4 linked regions of the Homo sapiens genome follow. The protein of the gene in region 4 interacts with the protein of the main gene of each other region in a pairwise test. Each region holds a gene or a part of one and is shown on either strand. Other genes may lie near its edges.

Evidence for each region.
Region 1: the proteins of SPG21 (region 4) and RABAC1 interact in binary tests that used the Homo sapiens proteins (3 or more experiments, as listed by UniProt).
Region 2: the proteins of SPG21 (region 4) and PLP2 interact in binary tests that used the Homo sapiens proteins (3 or more experiments, as listed by UniProt).
Region 3: the proteins of SPG21 (region 4) and TFIP11 interact in binary tests that used the Homo sapiens proteins (3 or more experiments, as listed by UniProt).

Annotation. Positions count from the first base shown.
Region 1 is NC_000019.10:41,956,322-41,963,820, forward strand, and holds RABAC1 (prenylated Rab acceptor protein 1), read right to left. Parts: upstream 3,001-7,499; 5' UTR 2,972-3,000; coding exon 2,916-2,971; intron 2,628-2,915; coding exon 2,415-2,627; intron 2,063-2,414; coding exon 1,965-2,062; intron 799-1,964; coding exon 697-798; intron 614-696; coding exon 525-613; 3' UTR 362-524; downstream 1-361. UniProt on the Homo sapiens protein: General Rab protein regulator required for vesicle formation from the Golgi complex. May control vesicle docking and fusion by mediating the action of Rab GTPases to the SNARE complexes.
Region 2 is NC_000023.11:49,167,763-49,174,910, forward strand, and holds the start of PLP2 (proteolipid protein 2), read left to right. Parts: upstream 1-4,135; 5' UTR 4,136-4,238; coding exon 4,239-4,334; intron 4,335-5,366; coding exon 5,367-5,519; intron 5,520-5,625; coding exon 5,626-5,721; intron 5,722-6,572; coding exon 6,573-6,663; intron 6,664-6,909; coding exon 6,910-6,932; 3' UTR 6,933-7,148. UniProt on the Homo sapiens protein: May play a role in cell differentiation in the intestinal epithelium.
Region 3 is NC_000022.11:26,490,740-26,495,473, reverse strand, and holds the end of TFIP11 (tuftelin-interacting protein 11), read left to right. Parts: intron 1-534; coding exon 535-677; intron 678-815; exon of another isoform or gene 816-1,169; coding exon 1,170-1,335; exon of another isoform or gene 1,336-3,105; coding exon 3,106-3,461; 3' UTR 3,462-3,801; coding exon of another isoform or gene 3,802-4,011; 3' UTR 4,012-4,234; downstream 4,235-4,734. Other genes in the region: SRRD (SRR1-like protein), read right to left, coding at 3,802-4,011, 4,404-4,449. UniProt on the Homo sapiens protein: Involved in pre-mRNA splicing, specifically in spliceosome disassembly during late-stage splicing events. Intron turnover seems to proceed through reactions in two lariat-intron associated complexes termed Intron Large (IL) and Intron Small (IS).
Region 4 is NC_000015.10:64,979,915-64,986,914, reverse strand, and holds part of SPG21 (maspardin), read left to right. Parts: intron 1-3,321; 5' UTR 3,322-3,345; coding exon 3,346-3,408; intron 3,409-5,889; coding exon 5,890-6,051; intron 6,052-7,000. UniProt on the Homo sapiens protein: May play a role as a negative regulatory factor in CD4-dependent T-cell activation.

The sequences.
Region 1 (7,499 bases), on a different chromosome or scaffold from region 4:
CTCCATGCACCTTTCCTTTTGGCTGACTTGGCTCCATACCCTTTGATGAGAGTAAATCAGAGCTGTGAGTGCAATTGCATACTGAGTCCCCAGTCCCAGAGAACCATCAAACCTGGGGTGCTCTCTGATTCCTGAGTCCTAAAGAACCATCAAACCTGGGGGTGGTCTCGGGGACCCCCGGCACACTGTCCTTCTCAACTCTTTTCTCCTCCTGAACACTCACCACCATTGGGCATCCCATAATATTTTACCTGTTTACCTTGTCATCGTCTTGCCCACACCCCAGGTTCCACCCCAACCCTGCTCTGTGCAGTATTCCCAGCTCCACCCATAGAGACCCACAGAAGATGCTGGGGGAATATTTCCTGAATGACACCCATAACAGCTTTATTTTCAAAGGCGGGATCCCTCCCCGGGCTTGTGATGGGACGGCGCTGTGGGCCCGAGCAGCAGAGCCGTGCAGGACAGGCATGGGCAGGGGTGGGGCAGCTGGCCCGGGAGGCCGGCAGGTCCCAGAAGACACCTCACACGGGTTCCATCTGCAGCTCCTCCCCGTCCACAGCCTCAATCTGGTGGAAGGCAGCGTGGGAGCCGATGACCACCAGGGTGGCTCCTGCAGGAAAGCCGGCAGCTCAGGGCCACACTCCTGCACCTGGCTCCCACCATCCACCCCAGCTGCTCAGACCCTGTACTCACCCAGCACCCAGAAGACGGCCGAGCCCGCACCAGCCAGCCAGAAGAAGGGGAAGGAGATGCCTCCAGCCAGAGCATACTGATGCGCTGGGCTCACCTCTCGGCCTGGGGGCAGATGGCATTGGGGTGCTGTTCCGACTCTCCATGCCCTCTCCCAGAGTAACCCCTGCTGCCCCCCAACAATCCGTACAAGCTCCAGGTTCTCGGGATCGAATCCAAACTCCTCATGCCAAGGCCCTCCAGGTCCTGGGGTCACCCTGTTCCCCTGCTGTCCCCACTGCCCTCCAGAACACAGCACACCGTCCTCGCCTGCCTCAGCCCCACCCTCTGCCCTCTGCCCCACATCCTCCAGGAAGTTCCTGGGATCCCGGCTTCCTGCTCCCTAGACTAGGGCTCTCCTGCTGCAACCCTCGCGCAGACCAGGGTCTCAAACTGGTGGCCCAAGGGCCAAATCTGACCTGTGGATGTGTTTTTTGAGCTGTTTTGCAAGGATGTGATTTGTGGCTGGCAAAGTGAACGATTTCACATAAAAATACCAACTTCAGGCTTCTCATAGAAGTCTCAGGGATGGGGTCTACATGCTCTGGTGACGGTGATCAGCTGAAGCCAAGTCGTGCCTGTGCTTCAGGCACTCCCTCCACCCCAGCCCATCAAGCACATAACTTGCAGGCCCCTGAAGAGCCTGGCCTTCAGGTCTACCTAACTGTCCAATCCCAACTCCCTGACCCCACTCCAAACCTTGATTTTCCCCTGGGGGGAATTTCCCCTGGCATTTTGTTTTCCCAGTGGTCCTTGGTACTACTAGTCTGGGAACCACATGAAACATACTCCTCGGCTTCCCTCTCTAAGTTCCAAGTTCTTTCTGGTCACACCCCAGAAAGCAGGAAAAGAAACGGGAACAGATCTAGGCCAGTGTAAGGTGGCCACCTGGTGTCCAGTGTGGGCACCTGCAGCTGATGTTGGCCGCAGAGAGCGGCAAGGGGAGGAGAGAGAGGGGAGGAGTCATGTGGTTTGAAAAGGAGTAGGTTTAAGGCACAGCAGCCAGGTGGATCCTGGGTTTGAGGAATAGCAATTTGAGGGGGCTGAGACTCGATGGAAGGATCGGTTGTGTCTGAGATTTTAAGGGATCAGGTTTGGGGGATCTAGTGTACATCTAGGCTTGGGCGGACTTGGGTTTTGAAGGACTTGGATTTGGGGTCTGAGGTCTGTCTGCATTCCAAAAGACCAAGATTTGAGGGACCAAGGATTCATCTGGGCAGGGGGTTTCTCACCAAAGAGCACAAGCTTGGACTCCAAGGTGCGCAGATAGAGAATGTAACAGGCGCCGAAAAAGACAGCCAGAGCCACCAGCAACATAGGGGACGTCACCCTGGAGGAGGAGTGCAGGGAGGCAGCGGTTAGACAGCTGGGGCTGGGCCAGCCCGACGGCCCTGGCCTTCTCCACCGGCGGGCGGCAAGCTACATCCTGGAGACCAGGGAGGGCCAGGTGACATTTAGTCACACTGCATCCTGGCCAGGGTGATGGTGGGGTAGGGGACCTGGCCCTTTGGTGACAAGGTAGTCTAGCAGAGCCAATCCTTGGGGGCGGGGCCTGGGCGGTGAGAAGAGGGCCCTGGGCGGTGAGAGGAGGGACCGGGCGGTGAAGGGCGGGGCCTGAGCGGCGAGAGGAGGGGTCCAGCCGGTCGGGGCTAGTGCGGGTGCGGGGCCCGGGAGGCACTCACACACAGTACAGGATGAGGCCCAGGAACACGAACACATAGTTGCTCTGGTAGTACTCCACGTTGCGTACGAGGCGCTGGCACAGCTCTCCCAGGTTGCGGGGCCGTGAGAAGCGCTGCTGGTCCACGAAGGTGCTCCAGGGCCGGATGGTCGCGCGGCGCCGCTCCAGCCACTCCCGGCCTGCACCGGAGGGAATCAGCTTCGGCAGCAGGGTCCTGCGGGGGGTGGGGCCGGGTCAGTGGTGGACCGGGATGGAGCCCCAGACCCCCGCAAAAGAAGGGGACTAAGGGTGCCTGGACTCCCTCCCGGGACCCCAGATTCCTGTACAGCAGGCAGGGAGGGGACTAGGGGCCCAGACTCCAGGGTCCCATTAGAGGAGACCGGGGCCAACACTTCTGCGGCTCGGGGCTGGGACTCCAGGCTCTCGAGGGAGGAGGGAGGAGGGGGCCGGGGGCCCGGACTCCCGGGTCTCTGGTCCGAGGGCCTAGAGCCAGCTCGCTCACGTGCCGCTCAGCCCTTCCGCCTCGGCATCTTTCTGCTGGTCCTTCTGCGCTGCCATGTCTGCGTCGTGAGGGGTAGAGCTGCTGTAACCAGCCCGGTACCCTGAAGACCCCGCCGGCCCCGCCCGACGCCGGCCCCACCCAGCGGAGTCGACGTGGCGCAGCCCCGGAGCAGCTGGGGACTGTAGTTCTGCCGCCGAGTATTGTGGGAGTTGTAGTCCTGACGGTGACTAAGAGGATGGGCGCTATGATGGCGGTCTGACTCGCAAAACACCTTGGGAGATATAATCCCAGAAAGTGACGGCGCGCGCCTCTGGGTATTATAGGAGTTGTAGTTTCAGGAGGGTGCATGTGGGCTGTCAGGAGCGAGGGCGTTATGGGAACTCTAACGGCAGAAGCGGGCGTTGTGTACTCTCCCAGGGAAGGCACAATGGGGACCGTGCAGAGCTGTCCTTCTGACTCTAGAGGGCATAAAAAAACACCTGGAGGGCTTGCTAAAACAGATTCCTGGGCCCTAGCCCAGATGTTTTCATTCAGCAAGTCTGGGGTGGAGCCCATAATTTCCATTTCTGAGTTCCCAGGTGATGCTGATGCCCCTGGTCCATGGACTACATTTTGAGTAGAAAGATTTAGATAATTTGTGGGAATTGATTCCTTCCTCAAGAGATTGAGGCTAGTGAGGGGGCCATGGTTGCTGGAGGGGTATCTGAGGTTGCCCCCTGCCCCACCTTGTGGAGTCCCAAAGATGAATGAGTTGGGGCTAGGGACACCTCCGACCCCGCCACACACACCTTTGGAGAGAAGGGAGTGAAGTTGGGAAAGACAAAAGGTTGAGAAGTTTTGTGGGCTTTTTTGAAATGGAGTCTCGCTCTTGTTGCCCAGGCTGGAGTGCAATGGCGCAATCTCGGCTCACTGCAACCTCTGCCTCCTGGGTTCAAGCGATTCTCCTGCCTCAGCCTCCAGAGTAGCTGGGATTACAGGCGCCCGCCACCACGCCCAGCTAATTTTTGTATTTTTTTAGTAGAGACGGGGTTTCACCATGTTGGCCAGGCTGGTCTCGTACTCCTGACCTCGTGATCTTCCTGTCTCAGCCTCTCAAAGTGCTGGGATTACAGGCGTGAGCCATTGTGCCTGGCCCACAGGGCTGGAATTCTAATTGAATTCTAATGGGGTGAACCAGAACAGGGCCTCAAGAAATGTGTGTGGAAGTATAGGGAAGCCTGGGCTCCCTTAAGCAGACTGGGATCCTAATTTTCCAAAGCAGCTGGGTGGGGCTGGAAGGAAAATATCTATATGGGATAACCAGGTGACCTTTTTTTTTTTGAAAATTTTTTTAAGTAGATAAGGGATTTTGCTGTGTTGGCCCAGTAGGTCTCAAACTCCTGGACTCAAGCGATCCTTCTGCCTGGCCTTCCCAAGTATTGGGATTACAGGTGTGAGCCACCATGCCCAGGTTCAAGTGACTTTTTTTTTTTTTTGAGACGGAGTCTCACTCTGTCGCCAGGGCTGGAGTGCAGTGGCACAATCTTGGCTCACTGCAACCTCCACCTCCTCCTGGGTTCAAGCGATTCTCCTGCCTCAGCCTCCCGAGTAGCTGGGATTACAGGCGCCCGCCACTATGCCCAGCTAATTTTTTGTATTTTTAGTAAAGATGGGGTTTCACCATGTTGGCCAGGCTGGTCTCGAACTCCTGACTTTGTGATTTGCCCGCCTCGGCCTCCCAAAGTGCTGGGATTACAGGTGTGAGCCACTGCGCCTGGCCCCAAGTGACTCTTTTAGGCCCAGCTCTTGTCTTCCAAGATCTACAGCAGTTTAGGGTTTGTGCTTTGAGGCCTGCTGGAAGGTGTTCCCAGGAGGTGGGAGGAAGATGGCCCTGTCTGAGGGGCTGGTGGCGCAATAGGCAGGGAAGCCCTTTGCAAGGGCCCCACACTGAAGATGGAAGAGTTACACTTTGAAGATCAGATTGGCTAGTTACTGTTTATTTCCTCTTTGTCACCCCCAGGCTTTTAGTGGAATCAGGTTTCCTTTTTTTTTTTTTTTTTTTTTGAGATGGAGTTTCACTCTGTTGCTCAGGCTGGAGTACAGTGGCACAATGTCTACTCACTGCAACCTCCGCCTCTCGGGTTCAAGCGATTCTCCTGCCTCAGCCTCCTGAGTAGCTGGGATTACAGGTGTGCACCACCATGCCCAGCTAATTTGTGTATTTTTAATAGAGACGGGGTTTCACCATGTTGGTCAGGCTGGTCTCAAACTCTGACCTCGTGATCTGCCCACCTCAGCCTCCCAAAGTGCTGGGATTACAGGCGTGACCCATCACACCTGGCCTGGAATCAGGTTTTCTAAATAGGATTCAAACTTGAAAATCAAAGGAGGACTGCGGGGCTGGGCGTGGTCCTGTAATCCCAGCACTTATGGGAGGCTCAGGAGGGTGGATCACTTGAGGTCAGGAGTTCAACACCAGCCTGGCCAACATGGCAAAAGCCCATCTCTACTAAAAAAAAAAATACACATGCCTGTAATCCCAGCTACTCGGGAGGCTGAGGCAGGAGAATCACTTGAACCCAGGAGGCGGAGGTTGCAGTGAGCCAAGAGTGTGCTATCGCACTCCAGCCTGGGCGACAGAATGAGACCCTGTCTCAGAAAAAAACAAAACAAAACAAAACAGAAAACACCAAAGGAGGAGTGCAATAGCACAATTAGCCCCGAGCAGGAATAGGGGAGCAGCATCTGAATTCAAAGGGCCAAAGCAGCAGAGGTAGCCCTTGGAAGAACCTCCACCGAAAGACAGAGCTTGGGGAATAGAATTGGGACAGAGCTCCAGCTGCCTCTTTGGTGGCAGGCCGTAGGAGATTCAGGATGGACTTTTGTTATGAGAGCTGTTGGGTTTCCTTATAGGAACTGAATGAAAGCAATTTCATTCCAAAACCCACTGGTCTTTGTTCTGAGCAGAGAACATAGAGGCAGAGGCCTGGAGGTGTCGAACAGCGCAGGCCATGGCAAGAGACGGGGAGGGGGACAGTGGAGTCTGAGGGGCAAGGACATTGCAGGAGGGGTCCTAGGAGTGGGAGGGTGGGGGGGGACTTTGAATAAGGGAATTTCAGGAGATGGGACCTGGACACAGGGGTAATGTGGGAGAGGAGGGCCTGAGGCAGAGACATCATGAGATGGTGAGAAATGGGGTCCCTGAGGGAAGGGGCCTTTGGCAGATGGGCCCTGAATTAGGGGGGTAGGGGGTTGGTGTGCTGGGAGATGAGGGGGCACCTGAGAAGATTGTGAGTCCCAGGCCAGGTGTGGCTCACGCCTGTAATCTCAGCACTTTGGGAGGCCAAGATGGGCGGATCACTTAAGGCCAGGAGTTCGAGACCAGCCTGCCCAACATGGTGAAACCCCATCTTTACTAAACATACAAAAAAAAATTAGCTCGGCGTGATGGTGCACGCCTGTAATCCCAGCTACTCAGGAGGCTGAGTCAAGAGAATCGCTTGAACCCAGGAGGCAGAGGTTGCAGTGAGCTGAGACTGTGCCACTGTACGAGACCCTATCTCAAAAAAAAAAAAAAAAAAAAGAAAAAGATGGGTGCCTCCAGCCTGAGGACTCCTCCCTCCCTCCTGGGATCCCCAAGGAAGCGGTGCTGGGAAAGCAGGAAGACCTTAGCACATTCAGCCAGAAATGTGGGTCACTGTCCCTGCTGTGTGACCTCAAGGAAAGCCCTCCCGTCTCTGGGCCTCAGTCTCCCCACCTGTCTATGGGAGCGTCTCTTCCCCTGCACCAGAAAAATTAAACAGTATGTGTGGGTTTCCTAGGAGAGGTCTGGGCTCATGTAGCCCCTACCAGGACCAGGCTGTACTCTGGGGTCACCAGGGGTGCCCAGCGCACATGGCCCCTGCCCTCCAACTGCCTTTCCCCCTCAGATTCGGGAGTTTCTCCCTCATCCATTGTCTTGTGCAGTGGGTGTGTACATGCACTTGCACACTCACCCACTCACACTCACTCTCAGCATCCTGGCCACAGACACTGGCATTGGGAGGCAGGCAGGCCCAGGCCTGGCCCCAGCCCCTCCTCTGACTTGCCTCCCTGAGCTGTGTTAGGAAGGCTGCCTCGAGGGAAATGGATTCACTGCCCCACCAAGGTGGCAAAAATGAAAAGGACTGACAACTCCCAGTGGAGGAAGGATGTGGAGCAGCTGCTGCTTCCTTACACTGTTGGATGCAGAATGGCACTCGAACTTTGGAAAGGGTCTGGCAACGTCCATGAAAGCTAAACATGGTCTATCCCATGAACCAGCAATTCCACTCCCAGGCACGCGTGTACCCAACAGAGTGCACATCTGTCATTAAAAGACACAACTAGAGGGCTGGGCGCGGTGGCTCAGGCCTGTAATCCCAGCACTTTGGGAGGCCGAGGTGGGCAGATCACAAGGTCAGGAGTTCGAGACCAACCTGACCAACATGGTGAAACCCCGTCTGTACTAAAAACACAAAAATTAGCTGGGCGTGGTGGTGCACGCCTGTAGTCCCAGCTACTCGGGAGGCTGAGGCAGAGGAATCACTTGAACCCGGGAGGTGGAGATTGCAGTGAGCCAAGATC
Region 2 (7,148 bases), on a different chromosome or scaffold from region 4:
GTCTATAAATACAGTCACACCCAGGAGACTAATAATAGTAACCCCAGCCACCATGTACTTAGTTTTATCCCTGCTACTGGCTTTATTGCAATATTTATTTTCATCTACAATAGTTGCACATCTACTCAACTATCCGAATATGTCCATTTCGCAGAGGAGGAAAGTGAGGCCCAGGGAGTGCAGATAGCTACAGAGAGGAGGGTCAAAGCACGATTTAATCAAGGCCTGATTCCCAAGTCTGTCCTCTCAATTTCACCTGCATTGACAAGTATTAATTGAACCCCAACTGTATATGTTGCACTGTGCTAGGTACTGTGGAGATGCTGGAGGAACAAGACATAAAATTTCTTTGTGTAGCTGATGTATGTAATGAGAGTAGACAGATGTCAGACAAAAAAGACGAGAAAATGAATAAATAAAAAACCAGGCCAGGCGTGGTGGCTCACGCCTGTAATCCCAGCACTTTGGGAGGCCGAGGCTGGTGGATCACGAGGTCAAGAGTTCAAGAGCAGCCTGGCCAAGATGGTGAAACCCCGTCTCTACTGAAAATACAAAAATTAGCCAGGTGTGGTAGCAGGTGCCTGTAATCACAGCTACTCGGGAGGCTGAGGCAGAGAATTGCTTGAACCCAGGAGGTGGAGGTTGCAGCGAGCCAAGATCGCACCACTGCACTCCAGCCTGGGTGACAGAGCGAGAATCAGTCTCAAAAAAAAAAAAAAAAAAAAAAAAAACTTCAGGCCAGACATGGTGGTTTGTGCCTGTAATCCCAGTACTTTGGGAGGCGGAGGCGGGTGGATTGTTTGAGCCTACAAGTTTGATACCAGCCTGGGCAACATAGACCTTGTCTCTACAAAAAGTTTAAAAATTAGCTGGGAGTGGTGGCTCATGCCTGTAGTCCCAACTACTTGGGACACTGAGGTGGGAGGATCACTTGAGCCTGGGAGGTCAAGGCTGCAGTGAGCCATGATTGCACCATTCCACTCTAGCTGGAGTGACAGTGAGACCTTATCTCAAAAAAAAAAAAAAAAAAAAAAAAAAGGCCAGGCTCGTGGCTTACATCTGTAATCCCAACACTTTGGGAGGCCAAGGCAGGCGGATCACCTGAGGTCAGGAGTTCGAGACCAGTCTGACCAATATGGAGAAACCCCATCTCTACTAAAAATACAAAATTAGCCTGGTGTGGTGGCACATGCCTGTAATCTCAGCTACTCAGGAGGCTGAGACAGAAGAATCGCTTGAACCCGGGAGGTGGAGGTTGCGGTGAGCCAAGATTGTGCCATTGTACTCCAGCCTGGGCAACAAGAGCAAAACTCCTTCTCAAAAAAAAAAAAAAAAAAAAAAGACAATTTCAGAGAGAAGTGAGAGTCATGAAGCTATGAAGCTAGCAAAAGGAGGTTACATTGTGGGAGATGATGGTGAGCTTCTGGCCTCTTTGAAGACATAACTCTTGAGCTGCAACCTGAATGACCAGAAGCCAGGTATATGAAGCACTGAGTGAAGGGCATTGACAGCAGGGGGAATAGCAAGTGCAAAGGTGTTGAAGTGGAACCAGGTTCATCTTGTTTCAGAAATTCAGACGTGTCCTCACAGAGTTGGAAAGCACATACTCATCACTAGGAAAAGTATGTTTCATCCCTTCCACTATTCACTCACTCTTCCGGCAACCGGGGCTGAAAGAGGGGAGCTCTTTCCTTAGTTTTGAGGGGCCCTGTGTTGGCAGAGAGAGCAGGCAGGCCCTTGGGTTGAATCCTCCTGGCCATCCAGTTATGATTCTCCCCCACTTCAAATGAGATGAGAATAAAAACAACTTCTAGTCTGGAGAGTGTGTCCCTCAGGGTACCTCTGGGATCCTGATTCCAGGAGACGAGATGCATGTCTTAGATGCAGAAATTAAGGCTGAGCTGGGGGAAATTACTTGCTCAAAATAACACACTTAGCCAGGCGCAGTGGCTCACGCCTGTAATCTCAGCACTTTGGGAGGCCAAGGCGGGAGAATTGCTTGAGGTCAGGAGTTCAAGACCAGCCTGAGCAACATAACGAGACCTTGTCTCTACTAAAAAATAAATAAATACAAACAAAGTGTCTACAAATGTCACCCAGCCTTGCACCCCAGGAGCCATCCATTCATCTTGCCAATCCCCCAGAAATAAACTTTCCTATTCCTCATGTACGATTGTGCTGACTGGCCCCTCTCTTCAGAACCAGGAAACTGAGGCCCAACATTTAGGGCCAGGACTTCCTTGGGATTGCAGAACACAGAATCAGACCTTGGGCTCTCTGGGCTCTAACACTACTACAAAATATGTTTTTTTAAAATAGAGACAAGCTCTCACTACGTTGCCCAGGCTGGTCTCGAACTCTTGAGCTGAAGTGATTCTCCTACCTCGGCCTCCCAAAGTGCTAGGATTACAGGCATGAGCCACTGCTCCTGGCCTTGGGCTCTAACACTTGAAACAATGCTTGCCCTATTTCTGAGCAACTCAATGCTCACCAACCCCTATTCTCACACAGCCTTTACACTGGCAGGGTCTTATTCTCATCACTGCTCAGAGGTTTATTCCACTGTCCACAATCCATTATCCAAAAACAAAAAGCTCTGGAAACTGATGGTTTTCCCACAAGATAGGCACTATTTGGTTACAAAACCTGACCTGATCTAACGAGGAACAATTTTCTTTCTTCCTTTCTTTTTGTTTTTCCTTTTTTGGAGACAGGGTCTTGCTCTGTTGCCCAGGCAGGAGTGCAGTGGTCTGATCATGGTTCACTGCAGCCTTGAACTCCCAGGCTCAAGCAATCCTCCCACCTCAGCCTCCCGAGTAGTTGGGATTACAGGCACGTGCCACCATGCCTGGGCTAATTTTTTTCTTTTTTCTTTTTTTTTTTTTTTTTTGAGACGGAGTCTTGCTCTGTCGCCCAGGCTGGAGTGCAGTGGCGCAATCTTGGCTCACTACAACCTCCACCTCCCAGGTTCAAGCGATTCTCCTGCCTCAGCCTCCTGACTAGCTGGGATTATAGGCGAGCGCCACCACACCCGGTTCATTTTTTGTGTATTTTTAGTAGAGACGGGGTTTCACCATGTTGGACAGGCTGGTCTCGAACTCCTGACCTCGTGATCTGCCCACCTCGGCCTCCCAAACTGCTGGGATTATAGGCTTGAGCCACCGCGTCCGGCCGCCTGGGCTAATTTTTAAAATTATTTGTAGAGATGAGGTCTCACTGTGTTGCCGAGGTTGATCTCCAACTCTTGGGCTCAAGCGATCCTCCCACCTGAGGCTCCCAGAGTGTTGGGATTACTGGCATGAGCCACTGCGCCCAGCCGAGGAACACTTTTCAATCCTTACCCAGTTATTGTGAACGTTCATACCTTTTCTTGAAGAAATACCGTTTTTGTTGTTGTTGTTGTTTTTGAGACGTAGTTTCGCTCTTGTTGCCCAGACTGGAGTGCAATGGCATGATCTTGGCTCACCGCAACCTCTGCCTCCCGGGTTCAAGCGATTCTCCTGCCTCAGCCTTCCGAGTAGCTGGGATTACAGGCATGCGTCACCGTGCCCAGCTAATTTTTGTATTTTTAGTAGAGACGGTGTTTCTCCATGTTGGTCAGGCTGGTCTCGAACTCCCGACCTCAGGTGATCCACCCGCCTCGGCCTCCCAGTGTTGGGATTACAGGCGTGAGCCACCGCGCCTGGCCCTTTTTTTTTTTTTTTGTAACGCGGCAGCTCCAAACCCCGCTGAGAGTATATGCATGGGAAAACTTTCTGAAATCAAAAATATTCCGAATTCTGGCAACATACTGGGCCCCAAGTCTTTCGGATTTAACTCTGCCTCGGCCGTTTTATTCAGTTAAGGAAACTGAGTCACTCCATCCCAAAGCCAGATTCCCGCGGTTCTAAGCTGAAGCTGTCTCGGGTGCATTTGCATTCCAAAAAGGCGAAGGGTCCCGCTATTACTGCTCCTGGTACCTGGAGCTGCCAAGCACCCCTGCGATGGGGCGCCCCGGGGGCTGTGCGCCAGGCTGGGAGTATCCTTGGGGGGCGGGGCGAGGGGGCTTCCGGGGCGGCAGCCACCTGGCCCGGCTCCGGCCCCGCCCGCGTCAGCTCTGCGCGGTGATTCACTCCCTCCTTCGCCCCGGGGCCCCCTTCCCGGCCAGACGGCGGGCAAGACAGCTGGGTGTACAGCGTCCTCGAAACCACGAGCAAGTGAGCAGATCCTCCGAGGCACCAGGGACTCCAGCCCATGCCATGGCGGATTCTGAGCGCCTCTCGGCTCCTGGCTGCTGGGCCGCCTGCACCAACTTCTCGCGCACTCGAAAGGGAATCCTCCTGTTTGCTGAGATTGTGAGCGTTCTGGGGCAGGCGCGTGGGCAAAAGCGGGATGGGGTGGCTGGACCATGCGGAACTGGATGGTCCGGGTGAGGCAGGCACTTGGCCGGGGCGCTCGGCAGTGGGGTGCAGGTGGGTGGGTTCACGGTGGAGGCCCGAAACCCGGGGCGCAGGGCGAGTCGGTGGGGTTTGACGAAGGTTGTTGAGATCTGGTGGTCCCCGGGGTGAAGCAAGGAGCCTATAACGCATACGGAGGGCTACGTGGGGACAGCCTGCGTGAACTCATCAGTGGACGCATCGAAGGGGTCCCAGGGTGCTGGGAAGTGGGGGCCTCCTGTGGCAGGGCGTGGCGCGGCCTGGGCACAGGAGGGCGGGCTGGCAGCGCGCCCAGGGGCAGGGCCTGTTGGGGTGGGGCCCCCCCGCCCCGCGCTAGTCCCGCGGTGTAGAGCGCCCCGCCCTTCGCCAGTTCTTCCTCGCCCTTCAGAGGCCGGGCGGGATGTCCTTAGCTTTTCGGGGTTTCCACCCTTCTCAAAGTGGGCGCCGCCTTTGAGTCACTTGTAAAAGGGGTGCGGCGCCTTTAACGGAGTCCTGCCTCTCTGGTGTCACTCTCACCGCTTCCCAAAGGGGTTGCTGGGGGAACCGCGTGTTCCGCCCCGGTCAAGGCCACAAAGCTGGCGTCAGCGGGGCTCACAAAACACCTGGCAGCGCCACTCCCCTCAGGCTGCCCGTAACCTAGAAGGGAAAAGAGGAAACTGAGGCACCCAACTCTACTCCTTACTTGTTGGGTGACCCTGGCCAAGCCATTAAACCTCTCTGTGCCTCAGTTTTCTCGTCTATAAATTAGAAAGAGTAATAATAGTACCCAGAGCATTAGATTGTCGTGATGATTGAATTTGGAACACAGTGAGCACATAAAAAGTGTTTAGCTATTATTGTATGTCATTTCCCCAGCCCTCGTAGGCATCTTAGTATGGGACCCCCAATTTAAACCAATCTTCTCAGCCCTGGTTGCTGATTGAGGTCCCCTTTCCCATGTCACCCTTCCAGATATTATGCCTGGTGATCCTGATCTGCTTCAGTGCCTCCACACCAGGCTACTCCTCCCTGTCGGTGATTGAGATGATCCTTGCTGCTATTTTCTTTGTTGTCTACATGTGTGACCTGCACACCAAGATACCATTCATCAACTGGCCCTGGAGTGTGAGAAGGGGTCCACAATGGCAAGACCAGGGAGGGGTCTGGGCAGTTAGGATTGTCGGGGAACTGTGGTTGCTGACTTCCCTCTTCTCCTCCCTACACCTCACAGGATTTCTTCCGAACCCTCATAGCGGCAATCCTCTACCTGATCACCTCCATTGTTGTCCTTGTTGAGAGAGGAAACCACTCCAAAATCGTCGCAGGGGTAAAGGCCATGGGAGCAGCTCTGAAGCACAGAGCGAAGGGTTTGAGGAGCCAGGGACCATTTCTGCCTTTGCTTCTGGCAGAAATCGTGTGACCCACAGCAAGTCACACTTGTCCTCAGACATGGAGGAAAGTCTGGCCCAGGACTTGGTTTTGCCTCCCAAGGTCTTCATTTGCTGTGAAGGGAAGTCCCTTGTCAGACACAAGGACCTTGGTGAGAGGTACAAACAGGCGGCCCCTTTGTCAATGCACTAGACTACCATCTGCAAGAACTTTGTCCCAAATGTAGTAGAAATTGGGGCCGGGCGCAGTGGCTCATGCCTGTATTCCCAGCACTTTGGGAGGCTGAGGCCGAGGCAGGCAGATCACTTGAGGTCAGGAGTTCAAGACCAGCCTGGCCAACATGGCGAAACCCCATCTCCACTAAAAATACAAAAATCAGCCGGGCATGGTGGTGGGCGCCTATAGTCCCAGCTACTCAGGAGGCTGAGGCAGGAGAATCACTTGAACCCAGAAGACAAAGGTTGCAGTGAGCCAAGATCATGCCACTCACTCCAGCCCCAGTGACAGATGGGTGACAGAGTGATACTGTGTCTCAAAAAAAAAAAAAGTATGACTTGAATTGTGCCCCCTACGGGTAGGGCCACAGTGTGGCCTCCCTGTGTTGAGAGGTATAGGAGGAGGGAGAGTGGGGTAGGATGCACTCTCTTGGCCTTTCCCTGGCTTACCAACCCGGTGCTTGAGTCCCATCCTGCGTGGGGCAGGTGCTGGAGGTGGTGGATACAAGAAGATAAGAGACTGAGTAACCTGACCAGCTAATCTAAACCCCCTCACTCCTATCCTGTCCCCCAGGTACTGGGCCTAATCGCTACGTGCCTCTTTGGCTATGATGCCTATGTCACCTTCCCCGTTCGGCAGCCAAGACATACAGCAGCCCCCACTGGTAAGTGTGTGTGTGTGTTGGTTGGGGGTAAGGGGGTTGCTGAGAGGGCAGAGGGAAAAAGGAAAGGGATCTCTTAAAGGCACGAATGCCAACTCTGGTCTCGTATTGGTACTTAGGGCTTTTGTACCAATAGGTACCATAAGCTTCGGTATTCTTGTGTGTAAAATGTTCATGGACTTTGGATCTTGTTTTAAAAAATGGGCATATAGATTCAGCCAATGCTTTCTCTCTTTTCCTCACCTGCAGACCCCGCAGATGGCCCGGTGTAGGCGAACTTCCCTCATTTCTCTCTGCAATCTGCAAATAACTCCTCCATTGAAATAACTCCTCCCCACCCCAACAACAACATTCCCAGCAGACCAACTCCCACCCCCTCTTTGAGGTAAAAGTGCCTTTATTGGGAGACTTTTGTCTTCCAGCCTGCCAATCAACCCTCCTGGGTGTGGCCACCATATGTGTGTGCCTAGGTCCTCCTTCTGCACGAT
Region 3 (4,734 bases), on a different chromosome or scaffold from region 4:
TGAAACCCCATCTCTACCAAAAATACAAACCAGCCAGGTGTGGTGGCGGGCGCCTGTCGTCCCAGCTACTAGGGAGGCTGAGGCGGGAGGATGGCTTGAACCTCGGAGGCAGAGGTTGCAGTGAGCCAAGATCTGCCATTGCACTTCAGCCTGGGCAACAGTGAGACCCTGTCTCAACAAAAAAAAAAAAAAAAAAAAAAAAAAAAAAAAAAAGCCAGGAGTTGTGACTTATGCCTGTAATCCCAGCCCTTTGGGAGGCTGAGGTGGGCAGATCACCTGAGACCAGGAGTTTGAGACCAGCCTGGGCAACATGCCAAAACGCTGTCTCTAATAAAAACACAAAAATTAGTTGGCCACGGTGGTGCACACCTGTACTCCCAGCTACTCGGGAGGCTGAGGCACAAGAGTCACTTGAACCCGGGAGGCGGAGGTTGCTGTAAGCTGAGATGAAAACGGACATTGTCTTTGCTCTTTGTGCTTCTTTGGCTTTGCCAGTACTAAAGCTGTGCCTTACAGACCGGGTTTCTCTTCCAGGGATGTGTCTTGGTGAGCTAGTCATTAACCCCCACCAGCAGCACATGGATGCATTCTATTGGGTGATTGACTGGGAAGGGATGATCTCTGTCTCTAGCCTGGTGGGACTTCTTGAAAAGCACTTCTTCCCCAAGTGGCTTCAGGTACACTTTGTTTTGCTTGGATTTCTGGGGGAGGGAACTGGGTGGGGATTAAGTTAATTTTCTGCCAAGGCCTGACTGTAGGTACAATTCCATAATGAAAATAAATTACATGGTAGGGTAGGAATGAGTTAGGTCATCTTCATAGTGGGCACCATTTATTGGACATTTGCCATGTATCAGAAGCTGTTCCAAGCACTTTATTTGCTTTATCTCAGCTCCTCTCAGCAACCCTATGGGGTAGGGGATATGGTATCCCTGTTGTGTAGACATGGAAGCTGAGGCTCAGAGAGTTTACATGCAAGGGCACTTTAGCTACCAGGCTGACTCCAAAATCCATATTCATAAGTGCTAGACTGTTTAGCTACTATAAATCCCTGTAAAGTAGTGTCACTAGCCTGTAGGACCAGGATCAAAACAAAACAAATGGCCACTTCAGAAATCTTGCCTTCATTTGTTGCCACGATGGATGCAAGTAATTTTTCTTTTTGGCAGGTGCTGTGCTCTTGGCTCAGTAACAGCCCAAATTATGAGGAGATCACCAAGTGGTACCTGGGTTGGAAGTCGATGTTCTCAGACCAAGTGCTGGCACATCCATCTGTCAAGGACAAATTTAATGAGGCACTTGATATCATGAACCGGGCGGTGTCCTCCAACGTTGGTAAGTGAGGATTCCCATTTTGGATGTCCTGGCCCCAAGTTTCAGATTTTACACATGTAAATGACACAGAATCAGAGTTTTCTGGTTCCTGTAGGCAGCCTAAACCTTAGGTCACACTTTTGCACATAGCAACAGACTCTCACCCTGCTGACTGGGGTACATGGTCAGCTGGCACCCACTGCCCAGGTCTACCATGACTGAGAGGGGCATCTTCCCTGAGTGGAGACTGACTTAAGCTGGATTCAGATGATGTCAGTCTAACCCCAGGCCCCGCCCTCTTAACCACTGTGCTGTGTGGCCTTTTAAGGCTCATTCATGCCTGAGCATGCTGCTTAGGTGACGCATCTTACAGTGTGGAGTTTGGCACGCGGTCTGACACTTGGTGATTGCTCAGCCTTAATCAGCCCCATTTTACCTGTTAAACAGTAAGATCTACTTTATAGGCTAAAAGGGAGAGTGAGTTCATGCTTGTGTATAGCCTTCAATAGGTGGTGTCTGTGTTGTCAAAAACAGGCAGTTCACTGTTCGTGTACTATATCTGTTCCCAAGTTCTAGGTAAGTCATTCTGCCTAGATCATAAGTAAGTGAGAGTATATTTATGTTTCTACATTTGGGAGCCTATTTCAACCAGTCCTGTGCTCCAGTGTTGCTCATTAGCCGATTCGCAGCATTGAAATGGGATCGTCTAGTCTGTGTTTTACAGATAAGCCCAGCGAGGCTGAGAGCCTGTTCAAGGTCACATAGTTAAAGGGTGGCAGTTAGAACTGGAATTTCTATTTCCTGAGTCTTTAATTCTTGTTATTTAATAGCCTAGGCCAGGCACGGTGGCTCACGCCTGTAATCCTAGCACTTTGGGAGGCCGAGGCGGGTAGATCACGAGGTCAGGAGTTCGAGACCAGCCTGACCAACATGGTGAAACCCCGTCTCTACTAAAAATGCAAAAATTAGCCGGGCGCGGTGGCACATGCCTGTAATGCCAGCTACTTAGGAGGCTGAGGCAGAAGAATCGCTTAAACCTGGGAGGCAGAGGTTGTAGTGAGCCGAGATTGCAAGCACTGCACTCCAGCCTAGGTGACAAGAGCGAGACTCGGTCTCAAAAAAAAAAAAAGAAAAATAGCCTATTCTGTGAAAACAGAGATTAAGTAATAAGGCAAATATACTTCTCTGCTTCTGTAATTATCAAGTTTTTTCTAAAAACTCTTCCTTAGCTACCCTTGGCCTCATGTTTCCAAAACTGTTCCCTGAATATACCCCTCAATTAGCACTTAGCATTTATGGTCTTGGTATTATCCTTTAAACACTCATTTCAGCTCCCTAAATATATGTGAACTTCTTTCAGGATGGGGGCCCTGTGTGGGTAGGTTAAAAATAAAGCCAGTATGGGCCCTATGTTTTCAAGGTACTAAAAGCTGCCTCTTTGGTGGTGGGAAATGGAAACTCTACAGAGCAAGGTGGGAACAGAAGAGTGGCTGAGGACTCTCTGTTAATGTTTCCAGCTCTGAAGGAAGAAATCCCTTGCAGATACTTCATTTTAAAATGTTGAATATTAATAATCTGGTTACTAGATACTAGCCAGGAACCTTCTGAACAGTTTTTATGTGATACTGGCCAGTCGTCTAAACTTCCTCCAAAGTTGTATCTTTGAGGCAGAGCTGCCCTTCAGTGAGTCACAAGCACTCTGGCACACCCAAGACCTGGGCCAAGCCACAGTGTCAACTTCCATACACCTGGAAACACCTCTCCTCACCGCCCTGTCCTCCTGTATCTTAGGTGCCTACATGCAGCCAGGAGCACGGGAGAACATTGCCTATCTCACCCACACGGAGCGGAGGAAGGACTTCCAGTACGAGGCCATGCAGGAGAGGCGGGAGGCTGAGAACATGGCTCAGAGGGGCATTGGCGTGGCCGCTAGCTCTGTGCCCATGAACTTTAAGGACCTCATTGAGACCAAGGCTGAGGAGCACAACATTGTCTTCATGCCCGTCATTGGGAAGCGACACGAAGGGAAGCAGCTCTACACCTTTGGCCGCATTGTGATCTACATCGACCGGGGAGTGGTCTTTGTCCAGGGCGAGAAGACGTGGGTGCCCACCTCACTGCAGAGCCTGATCGACATGGCCAAGTGAACTGTGGCAGGTCCAGAACCAGTCAGAGACTTGCCCCTAAGAGGGATGTACTGTAAATAAACAGTATTTTTAGATCACCTTCAAAAGGGTAACTTCTTTACTCAGGAGCTACTCCACATCAGGCCAGGTCATGAGGGAAGGATGTAAAATGGGACAATGCCACGTAGGGCAGGAATCTTTATACCAAGTCCTCATGTGGGGTATCGTCCTCAAAACAGGACAGCCAAGTTGATGTTCTTTCCTGGCAAAGGAGTTCTCTGTAGTTCCTCCATAGCAGCCTTCCCTTTAGTCTCTGGTGGCAGCTTCTACCTCAGCCAACACTGAGTACCTCACAACGAGTTCAGTCAGTAGCAGAAGGATCTTCTCTCTTGTTCCTGATGATTTCAAGGTCCTCACAGTCCTGATAATCTGGTTCTTCCCGAAACTCCCAAATATCTATGGAGAGCTGTTCTAGCTTTTGCACAGGGAACCAGTGGACAGAGGTATCATTAAATATGTCCATGTATTGTGAAGTCTGAGGAAACTCAAGCTCCTCCAGTCCTTTTAAAATCTGAGCAGAAAAATTCAAGTATAAAAACTTCAGATAGTCACAGTAATCCCCACTCTTCTGGGATAAATTTCCACTTTACTTGTCATCCCCACTTTACTTTTTAAAAAAATAACAAATAGGGTATTTTGATTTAAATGCTTTTGCACAATGAATTGGGCGCCCCAAGGACAGTGGATATCATGGACTGTGATACTAAGAATAAAGGAAATAAGGAAAAAACTAAGAGATGCATTAAAGAGTCATAGCTTTCTGGAACACAGACCCATGGAGAGAGCTGACAGTACACTAGCGCCACTTAGCCCATGAGTTTCCTCCTACGCCTGTAAAGAAAGATAGAATTCTTCACAGTTTCACACCCTTTTCCATCCCAGCCCCTTTATTCAGATAGATACCTTTGCAATGTAGGGATAATTTTTCTGCAGAATCCTTGCCAACAACCTAGAAATTAAAAAAAACCAAAAAAACAAAAAAAAAACACCATGATTAGGAGGTATGAGGATAGTTTCATTCAACTTTTAAGACACATAGAAGGGCAAGATGATTGAAGCATAGTAAGAATTCAGGAAAAAACTCAAGATGTGGAGTAAACCAGTTAAATAGTTGAAAATGTGGGCCAGGCGCAGGTAATCCCAGCACTTCAGGAGACTGAGGCGGGCGGATCATTTGAGGTCAGGAGTTCAAGACCAGCATGGCCAACATGGTAAAACCCCATCTCTACTAAAA
Region 4 (7,000 bases):
GTTTCTAATAATGCAATACTAGGAAATGTCTCCATTAAGAAGTATTTAGATGATATAGAAGTATTTCAAGTCTGTCCAGGTAGAAAATATTCCAGAATTAAGTATATGTGCTAGTTGCTTTCAATTAAAAGTTATAATCAGCTTAGAGAAAGCCTATAGTTAAAATGGCTTAGTTTTTTTTTGTTTTTTGTTTTTTTGTTTTTTGTTTTGTTTTGTTTTGTTTTGTTTTGTTTTTGAGACAGACTCTCACTCTGTCACCCAGGCTGGAGTGCAGTCTTGGCTCACTGCAACCTCCGCCTCCTGGGTTCAAGCGATTCTCCTGCCTCGCCTCCCGAGTATTTGGGATTACAGGCGGCCACTGCCATGCCTGGCTAATTTTTTTTGTATTTTTAGTAGAGATGGGGTTTCGCCATGTTGGTCAGGCTGGTCTTGAACTCCTCACCTCAGGTGATCCACCTGCCTCAGCCTCCCAAACTGCTGGGATTACAGGTGTGAGCCGCCGCGCCTGGCAAAATTTTTTAACATATTAATTTTTTTGTTTGTTTTTTTGAGATTGAGTCTCACTCTGTCGCCCAGGCTGGAGTGCAGTGGCACAATCTTGGCTCACCGCAACCTCTGCCTCCCGGGTTCAAGTGATTCTCCTGCCTCACCCTCCTGAGTAGCTGGGACTACGGGCGTGCGCCACCACGCCAGGCTAATTTTTGTATTTTTAGTAGAGACAGGGTTTCACTACCTTGGCTAGGCTGGTCTTGAACTCCTGACCTCGTGATCCACCTGCCTCAGCCTCCCAAAATGCTGGGATTACAGGCGTGAGCCACTGTGCCTGGCCTTAACATATTAATATTTAAGATAAAATGGATATGCAAAGAATTTTCTTTATTTCACTATATATATCTGTGCACACTAATTTTCAGTATAAGACTGGCTGATGATTTTCTTGGTACTTTAAAGCAACTTATGATTTTAACACACTTCTCTAAAATTACCATCTTAGCTTTGAGAAGAGAGACCATTATCACAATGTCAAGGTTGTAAATCAAGTTTAGTGTTAGAATGTCTACATCTGCTGTCTCCTCGGGGTTCAGCTTAGTACGTCTCCAAGGTCACAGTTGAGTCTACTGAGGGCTCTGTGTTCCTGAGGGAGCAGATCTCGAGGGCCACCAAGGAAGAGTTCCATTGAGTTTAGAATCCCCTGTTCCTTGCCAGTCCAGAGAACTCCCTCTAAAACGACAGTTCAGAGTCAGCCCGGGAGTTAGGTCTCACGAATCTCACCTCGTGTTAGCCGTGCTAGGATCAAGGCTTGCTCTTGAGGTAGAGGAAGTGGTACAAAGCAAATATTTGAATCCTTCCTGGTGGAATTTCCTCACTTGGCAATAAGAATCTGCAACAGGGAACTATAATTTCAGTTTCCTGTTATGACATAGCACAGATGCCTGAGCAAAGAGGGGCAGCCTTTTAGTTGAGGATGTTCAGCTAGGCCAAAGCTCACAGATGCCAGGGTTAGAAGGATGGCCCCCTTCATTCTCCTTAGAATGTAGTTATTCGTTCAATCAACAGATAATGCCTGCTGTGTGCCAAGCACTGATCTAAGCTTTGGGGACACAGTGGTAACACAGTCATAGATGAGGAAACAAACTCCAAAAGGATCAAGACTTATCTAAGATCACAGAGCTATGAAAACCAGAAGTCACTAAGCTCACAACAAAAGACTACACATTTTTTCCTAAGGGCAAATGTTTCATTTTGTTGTTAGTTATAGTGCCTTCAAGTTTACATTATAGATCTTTCTGAGGACATTGTGTAACTTTTAATCACGTCCATATGAGTGGCAAATTTGCCTGTATTTTGTATTAAGAACTACATGTAGGCGGGGCACGGTGGCTCATGCCTGTAATCCCAGCACTTTGGGAGGCTGAGGCGGGTGGATCATGAGGTCAGGAGCTCAAGGCCAGCCTGGCCAAGATGGTGAAACCCCGTCTCTACTAAAAATACAAAAAATTAGCCGGGCGCAGTGGCAGGTGCCTGTAATCCCAGCTACTCAGGAGGCTGAGGCAGGAGAATCGCTTGAACTTGGAGGGTGGAGGTTGCAGTGAGCTGAGATCACGCCACTGCACTCCAGCCTGGGTGACAGAGTGAGACTCTGTCTCAAAAAAAAAAAAAAAGGGAACTACATGTGAATTTCTGGTTATGTGCTATTACAGTTAGATTTATGGTGTATTGCGAATTTATCAGGAAGCAGGCTTAACTTAAACTTCTTTCTCTAGGCTGGGTGTGGTAGCTCATACCCGTAATCCCAGCACTTTGGGAGGCAAGATGGGAGGATTGCTTGAGCCTAGGAATTCGAGACCAGTGCAGGCAACACAGGGAGGCCCCCATCTCTACAAAACCAAAAAATTCACCTGACGTGGTGGTGTGTGCCCATTGTCTCAGCTACTTAGGAGGCTGAGGTTGGGATAATCACTTGAGCCTCAGAGGTTAAGGCTGTGGTGAGCTGTGATTGTGCCATTGAACTGCAGCCTGGACAACAGAGCAAGACTGTCTCAAAAATTAAAAAAGTAAAAAAACATCAACTCCTTTCTCTAGCGTGGACTATCCCTATAATCAGACAGGAGCATCTTTATTAAAGGGATTCTTAAGGTAATGTCAAAAGATAACTGATGGTACTGCAGTTGAGAACTAAGACAGGAAGTATGGTGTCAGAAAAGGCTGTCTCACATCTGGTCCTAGCATTGCCATGTGATCTTGGGTAAGTCATTTAAATTTTCTAGACCAGATTCCTTTTCTGGAAGAACTAAGGGTGTTGGAATAATTTCTGTAAGAGCTCTTCTGGTGGCCGGGCATGGTGGCTCACGCCTGTAATCCCAACACTTTAGGAGGCTGAGGTGGGTGGATCACCTGAGGTCAGGAGTTCGAGACCAGCCTGGCCAACATGGTGAACCCCCATCCCTACTAAAAATACAAAAATTAGTTGGGCGTGGTGGCGGGCACCTGTAATCCCAGATACTCGGGAGGCTGAGGCAGGAGAATCACTTGAACTGCAGGAGGTAGAGGATGCAGTGAGCTGAGATCACGCCACTGCACTCCAGCCTGGGCAACAAGACTGAGACTGTCTCAAAAAAAAAAAAAAAAGAGTGCTTCTGATTCTGTGATTGTAGTATTTCACCAAATTGTTTTCTGTAGTTGGACTATATACTGACAAAATAGCCAGTTTCCTTGGCTTTCTTCTTTAAAATATTGTTGGTATAGCTAGATGAGACTCTACATTTAGTTCTGATGTAAACATGAATTCTTGACGTGAAATATCACATGCTTTTATTTCAGGATTAACCTCCATTTCAGCTAATCATGGGAGAGATTAAAGTCTCTCCTGATTATAACTGGTTTAGAGGTACAGTTCCCCTTAAAAAGGTATGTATGGTTTTACTATACCTCTTATTTGCAAAATCTTGTATTGTTTTTGTGTGTGATTTAGATGTCATGTCTTAGTAGTGTTTGAGAGTAAAGGTTACTGCCGAGTATCATGACTGTGGGTTGCAGAGGATTAAGTTCACTCCTTCCCTGTCATGTACAGTCAACTTTTGAGACTCATTTTAGAGTGAAAGCAAGTGTAACTGTACTCATTTTTATTTATTTATTTATTTATATTTATTTTTGAGATGGAGTCTCGCTCTGCCGTCCAGGCTGGAGTGCAGTGCACTGCATGATCTCGGCTCACTGCAACCTCTGCTTCCCAGGTTCAAGAGATTCTCCTGCCTCAACCTGCCAAGTAGCTAGGATTACAGGCATGCGCTACCACACTCAGCTAATTTTTGTATTTTTAGTAGAGGCAGAGTTTCACCATGTTGGCCAGGCTGGTCTCGAACTCCTGACCACAAGTGATCCGCCCACCTTGGCCTCCCAAAGTGCTGGGATTACAGGCGTGAGCCACCGCACCCAGCCTGTACTCATTTTTTATAATTGCTTTTACATATACAAGCAAGCAGGTATGTATGTACTCTTCTGTATAGTTTAGTGGAAAGTTTACAGCAACTGTATAGTGAGTACAGTCAGATTATATTCCTGTTCCTCAGATTTAAGAATGGGGTCACATTATAGAGCTTCTGTTTGCAATGACATACTCATTCTGCCACAGTCATCTTCTAGAAGCTTTATTTTCCTGGGATGTTTGAAAACCCAAAACACTTATATTGCAGTTGAGTATTGACTCTGCTTCCCAAATTAATCCCAGATGTTTGGGGATCACACTAGACAAAGGCAGTTCAAGTCACTGAGTAGAGTAAAACCTTTGCTGATTCCCTTGCAGGAGTGTTAGAATCCAGTGATCTTAAGATCTTTTGCAGCTGTTTGTGATGGCTCATGCCTGTAATCCTAGCACTTTAGAGACCTAGGAGGATCATTTGAGGCCAGGAGTTTGAGACCAGCCTGGGCAACATAGCGAAACTCTGTCTCTATAAAAAAATGAAAAAATTAGCCAGGCATGGTGCTGTGCACCTGTAATCCCAGCACTTTGGAAGGCCGAGGCAGGAAGATTGCTTGAGCCTAGGAATTTGAGATCAGCCTGGGCAATATGATGAGACCCTTTCTCTACAAAAACTAGAAAAAATTAACTGGGCGTGTTGGTGCACGCCTGTAGTCCCGGACACTCAGGAGGCTGAGATGGGAGGATTGCTTAAGCCCAGGAAGACAAGCTTGCAGTAAGCTGTGATCGTGCCACTGCACTCCAGCCTGGGTGACAGAGCCAGACCTTGTCTCAAAAAAAAAAAAAAAAAAAAGAAAAGAAAAGAAAAAATGTGAGTGGCAAGATACACAGGACAAAAACATGAGCGTGAGATACATTATCACCATCTGTGACCTGTGGAAGTCCAAAGGGAACTGTTAGGCCTCTCTGGACTTTGCCTTGCTCCATTTATCTGCTCCTAGTGATGCCAGTGACCCTGGTTAGTGTGCTGCCACCCACAGAGTGACACTGTGGAGTCCATAGCCCTGCTAGTGAGGAGCTCTCAGAAAAAAGAGCCTGGAGGCCTTGAGTTTTTTAATATGAAAGTAGAATAAATACTGATTTGCATTGTCAAATGTTTAAGCAGTTAATGTACTTTTCTAAATACCACCAAAAGTGAAAGCAAAAATTAAACTAGGATGCCGTGAATAATAATAATAGCTAATATTTCTAGGACACTTAACATCTGCCAGACTCTGCTGAGCACTTGTCTTACCTCAGCTTGCCTTTTTTTTTTTTAAGAGACAGGATCTCTCCCTCTGTTGCTCAGGCTGGAGTGTTGTTGTATTTTTATTTATTTATTTATGTATTTTAAAGAGACAGGATCCAGGCCGGGCGCAGTGGCTCACGCCTGTAATCCCAGCACTTTGGGAGGCCAAGGCGGGTGGATCATGAGCTCAGGAGTTCGAGACCAGCCTGACCAATATGGTGAAACCCCGTCTCTACTAAAAATACAAAAAATTAGCTGGGCATGAGGGTGTGTGCCTATAATCCCAGCTACTTGGGAGGCTGAGGCAGGAGAATCGCTTGAACCTGGGAGGCAGAGGTTGTAGTGAGCCAAGATCGTGCCACTGCACTCCAGCCTGGGCTACAGAGCGAGACTCTGTCTCAAAAAAAAAAAAAAAAAAGGAGGAGGGGGAAGAAACAGAGAAGCAGCAGCCCTTTGGAAGATTATAAAGTAGTTCTAAGTAGTTCTGTGGAATACGTTAGCCCTGAGGAAAGAAAAGGAGATCAGAGGAGTTTGTCATGCATGCTAATCTGGTGTGAGCTCCAGGTTACCTTGTAACAAACAAGGCAGTAGTAGTAAAATTGTCAGTGAAATGACAGTGTAAAATAACATAAAAAGCAAATTTATAAGGTTTTCCACTTTTTTCTTTTAACCTTCCCTCCAGATTATTGTGGATGATGATGACAGTAAGATATGGTCGCTCTATGACGCGGGCCCCCGAAGTATCAGGTGTCCTCTCATATTCCTGCCCCCTGTCAGTGGAACTGCAGATGTCTTTTTCCGGCAGATTTTGGCTCTGACTGGATGGGGTTACCGGGTTATCGCTGTAAGTATTACTGATTAAAATTCAGACCCACGTTTTGTGTGTTTTTTTTTTTTTATGCTTCTGTCTCTCATCAGCTATAGTAATGGGCACAGTTTGTTTGTTTGTTTGTTTGTTTGTTTGTTTGTTGAGATGGATTCTCACTCTGTCGCCCGGGCTGGAGTGCAGTGGCGTGATCTCTGCTCACTGCAACCTCCGTCTCCCGGGTTCAAGCGATTCTCCTGCCTCAGCCTCCCGAGTAGCTGGGATTACAGGCGCCCGCCACTACGCCCAGCTAATTTTTTGTATTTTTAGTAGAGACGGGGTTTCGCCGTGTTGGCCAGGCTGGTCTCGAACTCCTGACCTCATGATTCATCCACCTCAGCCTCGCAAAGTGCTGAGATTACAGCCACGAGCCACTGCGCCCAGCCAGGCAGTTTTTTTAATTGAGGAAAGATACTGTTTGCTTATTTTAATATGTGAGATGAAGCCTTTTGAAGGAGGCTGGTGTGAGTCCACGGTCACACAGAGATTCAGAGGGAACAAACCTCTTTTGGCAGCCTCTCCATGCCCAGCATTTACGTGCATTCTCTCCTGACGCCCTTCTCTCAACTCAGAGCGGTAGGAAGCGTTGTCCTTCTTTACAGATGAAGAAACTGAGGTCCGGCTCACACAGCCAGTAGTGGTGGAGGGAGGAACTGAGCTCCGTCTCCTGGCTCTGTTTCTGCTCCTCATTTTATCACAGCACTGCTTCCAGGGTTGCTGAGCATGGAATATTAGACAACAAAGGGATTTGCTAACATACAAGTGACTTGAAAAGCTGGCTTTTCATGTAAATCTTTGATATTTGAGGTGAGATTCATTAATTAGCTCATATGTTAGCATTTGGTTAGGAAGTTTTTTTGTTCCTGATTGTTACTTTATAGCTGAGTTTGGTCTAAATCCAGTTTCCCACTGATCATTCTTGAGTCTT